Linked DNA regions of Homo sapiens. The protein of the gene in region 1 interacts with the protein of each later gene in a pairwise test. Each region holds a gene or a part of one and is shown on either strand. Other genes may lie near its edges.

Region 1 (3,752 bases):
AAAAACAATGTATACCTTTATACAAACACTTAGAAGTGGTTCGTTTTTAAGAGGAATTTGTATTTAGATTACTGATTGTTCCATATAAAAATGTTAGAAGAGATATATAAACTGAAATACTTAAAACATAATAAATATGAAAGCCTCAAAAATTTCATCAGTGCCTAGAGACTTAAATACATTGTTACTATTCCACTAAAATCTAAAAGAATCTTTGAGAATAGACATTTATAAGGTACATTTGGTGAAACATTTTACTCTTGGTAAATTAGAACAAGTCTAAGAATGACTCATACTTTCGATTTTTTTTTTTTTTTTTTTTTTTTTGAGACAGGTTCTGGCTCTGTCACCCAGGCTGGAGTTCAGTGGTGCGAACTTCGCTCACTGCATCCTCGACCTCCTGGGCTCAAGTGATGCTCCCACCTCAGCCTACCAAGTAGCTAGGACTACAGGTGTGTACTCCACCACGCCCAGCTAATTTTGTCTATTTTTTCAGAGACAGGGTCTCACTTTGCTGCCTAGGCCAGTCTCAAACTCCTGGCCTCAAGCAATCCTCCTTCCTTGGCCTCCCAAAGTGTTGGAATTATAGATGTGAGCCACTGCACCTAGCCTTAGATTCATTTTAATAAGCTTTTTAAAACAGCTCACTCTTGTTCCTATCATTTCTGTGGTAAGCTTCAGAGCAGTGTTGATATCTAAAGTCATACTCAAAGTTACTCAACTTGACAGGCCCTAATGTCAGACAGTACTAAAACCACTTGAGTCTTCATTTGAATATCACCACCATAAGCTTACACTGCGACGTTCCTTCCTGAGCTTAGTATGCATTTTCCATGAGCAATGAAAACATCTGACAACATGGGTCCCAGAAAATGTATACATGTGGGCTACATCATCTCTCCTCACAGTTTGATTAACAATTTTTATTAAATAAACTCACTATGTAATGTTTTGTGCCATACAGCTTGGGAAAGTTCCTAGACATCAGGAAATCAGCATGTTCTCAAGCAAATACACTTGATAGACATTCATCTCAGCAGGATAAATATCTACAGGAGAAAATCATGAAGCTACCAGAATGTGGCCAAAGGGAAAAATATCCTATGATCATTCCAGATTTTTTGTGTTGGTTCTCCTCTCCTATTCCCATCCCATCCCTGGAGAAAACAATAAGGCAAAGTTTCCCGTTTTTTTTTTTTTTTTTTTTTGAGACAGGATCTCCCTCCGCCACCTAGACTGGAGTGTAGTAAGCCTATCTCCGCTCACTGCAGCCTCAAGCAGTCCTCCAACCTAAGCCTCCCAAGTAGCTGGGACTACAGAGACATACCACTACGCTAATTTTTTAGTTTTTGTTTGTTTGTTTGTTTTTGTAGAGACAGGGTCTCACTATGTTGCCCAGGCTGGTCTTGAACCCCTGGGCTCAAATGATCCTCCTTCCTCGGCCTCCCAAAATTTTGGGATTACAGACATGAGCGACCACATCCAGTGCAAATTTTTTTATACCAAGGCAAAGATGATCATGCAAAAGAAACTAATGAATGAACAAGCCGTTGGAACAAAAACAATTTGTTAATGCTTCCCTGGCCTTACAAATACTGGAGTGGTAATGGGTGGAATCCATTCTATTAAAATAGAATGGATTTTAAATGTGTGGGGGTTTAGATATTCTTCTACCACCTCTGATTTTTCTGGAAACCATTACAGTTCCACAATCCTTTTCCCTCCAGGTGATCTGGGTCACTTTCATCACTTTCATCACTATCAGTTCATCCACTATTTGCACCATTTGGCCAGCTAAGAGTTGGCTAAAAGTGCAGCCAGGTGTGTCGTAATGATGCAAGACTATAGCAGTATAATCCCCATGATGCATTCACAGGATGCATTACAGAGAAGGGGAAGGAAAGAGTGCAATTCCAAGATGAACTTTGACTTGCAACCCACACTCCCTTCAACAAACAGCTTTAAGTAAATCTTGGAAATATTGTTCAAAATACATGTGACAAAACGTGACCATCTTTCCTCTGTTACGTGGCGGGTATGATCCTTTCTGTATTCCTAACATCTCTCAATTTGGGTTGAATGTGCAGTCCCTAAGTCATAAGCAAGTGCCAGTCACCACTTATGGTTGCTCCGAAGAGAAAATTAGACCTTGCTTTAGTTTTTTCTTCCAAAAGAACAACTTTTCATTTCTTAACCATTGTCAGCAATTTCCATAGGCTGGATTGACTTACCTTCATGATGTTTGGAAGTTAAGACAATGTATTTGGCACCAGAGGCCTGAAAAATATCTGCCCACTGGTTGGCATTAAAAAATTTTGCTGTAAATAGTGGTCCAAAATCTTCATATTTGAAACTAGGAGGGTAATTATCTTTCATAAATTCCACATACTTCGGTATCTTTTCCTTTTGCCAATACCACCTAAGGGGAGGAAAGGAAAGAGTGCATAAACAGCACATACACACATATTTAAAAGAACTGCTCCAGCTCCCCTTACCATTTACCCCTCACACAGATAGGACCCAGATTCTCTTTCTCACTTCCCCATTAGTTTGACTTGGCTTTAAAGATAGCTTATGCAAACTAAACCCCCTCTCATTTTCCACCTATCCCCCTGTGATATCCACTCAGCTCATAAACTAGAGCATTCTAGGCAACTCAGCTACCCATTCTCTCTTTTTTTTAAGACAGGGTCTCACTCTGTCACTCAGGTTGGAATGCAGTAATGGAATCATGGTTCACTGCAACCTTGACCTCCTGTGCTCAAGCAATCCTCTCGCCTTAGCCTCCTGAGTAGCTAGGACCACAGGCACGTGCCACCACACCTGGCTATTTTTTTTTTCTTTGTAGAGATGTGGTTTCCATATGTTGCCCAGGCTGGTCTTAAACTCCTGGGCTCAAGCGATCTTCCTGCTTCAGTCTCCCGAAGTGTTAGGATTACAGGCATGAGTCACCGTGTCCAGCCCCATTCTCTTTTAATTCTTCACTTTTAAATCACAACATGTAGTATATGTCTTTACACATTGTCCCTTGTAACATAAGTGATTAGGGCTTCTAAAAGGAAGACTACATGCCTAAAACATAATATGCATCTATTATATTCAGTAGTAGAGAACACTTTGGAGGCACAGGACAGAAAGGGAGGCAAAAGTAAAATTAAAAAGATGCTGTTATTTTAATAAATGGACTCAACCTTCAACAATTACTTGCTATACGCATTCATTCTAAGCAATGGTATATTGACCCTAAACTGCGTAAGCAAGACTTCATGAGGAAAAGCACATCTACACATTTTAGATAAACACAGCAGTAACTATCCTCATGAAATAGATGCAACCCCCATTTTTGACCCACCTCCTGCTTTTTCTATCACCATTCCTTTCATATGAGTATTTCTACAGGATAAGCAAATCCATAATCAGCACTATATTTCCCAAGACGATCAGGAGACTCTGCTAAGAAGAAATAATTGAAGGGCATACTATGCGGCAGGCATGCTGTTTGCCTGCCCAAAAGTCGTATTTACGTAATTTCCCAGCTTCCACTACAGCTGCGACAGGGATGTGAGATCCATGCTGGCCAAGGGAACTTGAGGGAAAGCCAACTTTGGGGACTGTGGAAATGGTTTCCCTCCTAATGAAAAGAGACACTGGCCTTCCTGCCTTTGGGCAGGGTTGTGTGAAGTTATGGTGCCTGGCTGCCATCCTGTGACCATGAAGGGACAAGTCCCCAGGCTGAGGATGAAAGAAAGAGC
Region 2 (3,579 bases), on another chromosome or scaffold:
AAGTAAATTAGATTTTTCTGTCCAAACAACTTTACTGACTTGGCTATTTCACCACTAATTTTTTTTTAAATTTAAGTTAGGTTTATCTTGGAATTCTAATCAATCCTTATTTATTGTTTTCACAAATACTGCAGAATTTTAGATTTTCGTGAAGGTATGTGTACACAAATAAGTAATTCATTAAAGTTTAATTGGTTGATTTTTCTCTATTTCAGTAAAAGCTATAAATCTATCTTTCTATCTAGGAAAAGGATTGGGATTTAGGTAAAAGTGAAGAAAAGTGGAATAAAAACCACCATCAAACTGGGACTAGAAAATTACTTGAAAGTAAATTTACTGTTGCAAAGCACATCAGAAAATTTTTCAATAATCTGAGAAATATAAATATTGACATAAAGCTAAAATAATGCAAATCCAAGGCCTGAAGTTGATGAGACGCAAACCTGCATGTTTATTCAATTGATGGGGCTACAGAAAGGAAAGGCAAGAGAGTGAAGGAGGTAAAACACCAGGCTGCAATGGGTCCTTCGCCCACTAATTCCTTTGGTGCTGCTCCTGGTCCAGGTCAGCAACAGCCCCCTCCAGAGCAGCAGCCAGAACCCCCAGACTGCTGGCCACTGCCACTGCCATAGCAATTGGAGCTCTTGGGTCTGTGGCAGTGGGACCTATGGTGTCTGTGGTGGCTCAGGCAGCAGCCACCTCCCTCAGAGCTGCAGCAACCACAGCCCCCAGAGCTGGAGCCACAGCAGGAAGAGATTGGAGGTGGGCATGAGGATGCACACTTTGAGGGACATTTTGGGGGATACTTGGGGATAGGACACTTGGGAGGGGGCTGGCACTGCTGTTGGTTCTGCTGGCAGGACATCTTGGTGGGATTTCGATAAACCTGAATGACAAAATAGAAACATATACAGAAACTTAATATCAAGAGCCATTACATTTTTTTTTATTTTAAAATCCTCCCCCAAGGTGATGAAGAGGAATATCTAAAATATGGACATGTATAGAAACCTCTTTCAGACAAAGAGTATATCTTCATTACTTTTGTACCCCTAGAGCTTTCAAAAATTCTTAGTATTTGTTAGGTGGTTAATAAGTGACTTCTGAGCTAATAAAGCCAGCAAAATTTGAATGCCATCTCAAAGACATGTTAAATACATTGCAATTCTACCCACATGAATTTATCTAGAAATGGAATTCAGAAATTCGTAGAAAATCTGTTTAATAAATAATAATAAATTTGAGATCTGCACGGTTAGAGAAAAGCTTCCTTCAGAGCAATGGGCTTAGGACCAGCAGGCCAACCATTGGTAGGGATGTAGCAATCCCAGGTCATTCATCATCTTCCTGTCTGATCACAGGGATAATCCTTCCCAGGTTGGTTCCTGCTTTGTCCAGAGCCAACTACTACTTCTGGCCTTCTGGCCTTGTCCACCATGTCATCCTCCTCCTACTCCACGCTTCACTGTTCGACTTCCAGAATTACTCTCCATCTCCATCTTCATCCCGCTAGCGTCCCCCTCTGGATTCCTATAGAAACACTCACCGTGGGTTCAGACGCAGCAACAGATACGTCCCTTAGGAAGCAGAGCAGATGAGAAGCCAGCAGCAGGAACACACTTTGTATGGATCCTGGGGCTGGGCCTCGGATGAGCCATGCTAATGGCAGGAGCAGGACGTGGCTGTTGCACAAGTGTGGGGTCATGCCTGACATTCTCCTGCCTCCTGGTTTCATCTCTTCCTGAGCTGGATGATGAGCTTCCCAGATAGCCTCTTCGGCACTAGTGGGAGAGGGGGTGACTATATGAGACTTTCTGTAAATCAGACCCTTTTCCCAGGCTAAGGTCTCAATGTACAGCAAACAGAGGGGTTTAAGGCTATGGGTACTTACCTTTCAAGCCTCCCTCTGAACACGCTTTGCTCAGTCCCTCAGGAAGAACTTTGGCACCAAAGGCTCCAAGACTGCCCCACATTTAGCCCCTAACATATTCCAGCCAAATTTCAGCCAGAGGCTCTGGGCCTTTCCCAGGTCAGTCAATCCTGAGAGGCTGGTTTGGTGCCATAGGCCTCCTTACTCTTTTAGAGAGTATCTCCCATGCTTTTAGACCAGGCCAAGTCCCCAGTCCTAACTGTGGAGAGAGATGCCCCTCGGTCAGCCACTCTTCTCTTTAGAATTTCTCTTCTATGAACCCTTCAGCCTGGAATTCAAAGGCTATCATATTTGACTACTTCTATTTGGGTTACCAAGGAATGTGTCACCATCAAGGGGCCTTTTGAGTAGGAGTTTCTGAGTTTTTCTGTTGTGTGTTGTGTATGTGATTCTGCTGCATTTAAGTAGCTCATGAGCACAGATCAGAGACTTGAGACTTTTACCAATTCAGGAACCTTTTGTGGAAGTATCTGTCTGTCAACTACACACACACACACACACACAAGTTGCATTTATTGCAACCATTTTTTAAAAAAAGGACTGATTTTTTTTCTTCAACAAACATATAAGAAGATCATTATGAGGAAAATATTTTTCCCATCATAGAAAAAACTCTTCCCTTTTACCCATCAAAACACTCTAAACCAACAAGAAAAAGAAATTTGGTGTGTGTTGCTCTAATTCTCAAAAGGTTTATATAGGATACAACTCTTCATGCAACCCATTAAGATTGATTTATTTCTCCTTATGTATATCATATATGTTATACGTATATACACATATAATCACGAGGTACTTCTGGAAATACCTACTATGCAAAATAGATGTCTAACAATGACAAAAGTTAGCTGATATTAATGAACATGAAGACATTGATAATGATGACAAGGAAGATGACTAAACCCCCAGCCTATATTTCCTCTCTGTAAAGACAGAAATTACCTACTTTTATAGTAATTTCTGCTATTACTAACTCAGAAAATGAGTATTAGACAGCAGGAACGGAATTGTTGTGGAAGGCAGATTTTCTGGCAAGTATTATTGTAGGAATGTCCTCCCATTTTCCATCTCTCTCCCAATCCAGTGCCCCATGTTAATGGTGTTTCTGGCAAGCAAATCATCAGCTATAGAGGGATGTGGTAACAAGCAACAACCTACCACATTGAGCTCTTAATCTGTGACCAGCACTGCCTCAGTTATGTGAGAAATACAATGAATTAACCTTGTTCCTGTCCTCAGGACCTCAGAGTAGAACTGGAGAGAGAAACAGAAACACCTGAGAAGTTAGATAGTGATGCTGAACCTCAACACAAGAGAAACACGGTGTGATTAAAGGAAAATTTCAGGGTTGACACCAGTGGTCCTAGTAGGCAGTCCTAAAACAAAAGATGCCAGGACTCAACTGTAGACAAATTAATTCAGAATTTCTGGGAATAGGGCCCCAGCATTGGTGTTTTTTAAAAGGTCACAAGTTGAATGTGTTGCACAAACAGAGATGAAAGCTATTGGTGTAGCCCTACTCTGCACAATACAGTAGCCACTAACCACATGAGATGATAAAGCCCTTGAAATATAACTTGTCTGAATTGAGATGTGCCATAGCATGACACTGAGTTTGAAGACATAAAATTGTTTTAAATGTAAAATAT

What was found. The genes of interacting proteins can lie anywhere in the genome.
Region 2: the proteins of FUCA2 (region 1) and LCE4A interact in binary tests that used the Homo sapiens proteins (3 or more experiments, as listed by UniProt).

The regions. Positions count from the first base shown.
Region 1 is NC_000006.12:143,505,006-143,508,757, forward strand, and holds part of FUCA2 (plasma alpha-L-fucosidase precursor), read right to left. Parts: intron 2,420-3,752; coding exon 2,232-2,419; exon of another isoform or gene 965-2,231; intron 453-964; exon of another isoform or gene 411-452; intron 1-410. UniProt on the Homo sapiens protein: Alpha-L-fucosidase is responsible for hydrolyzing the alpha-1,6-linked fucose joined to the reducing-end N-acetylglucosamine of the carbohydrate moieties of glycoproteins.
Region 2 is NC_000001.11:152,706,362-152,709,940, reverse strand, and holds LCE4A (late cornified envelope protein 4A), read right to left. Parts: upstream 1,782-3,579; 5' UTR 1,547-1,781; intron 895-1,546; exon of another isoform or gene 887-894; 5' UTR 866-886; coding exon 566-865; 3' UTR 507-565; downstream 1-506. UniProt on the Homo sapiens protein: Precursors of the cornified envelope of the stratum corneum.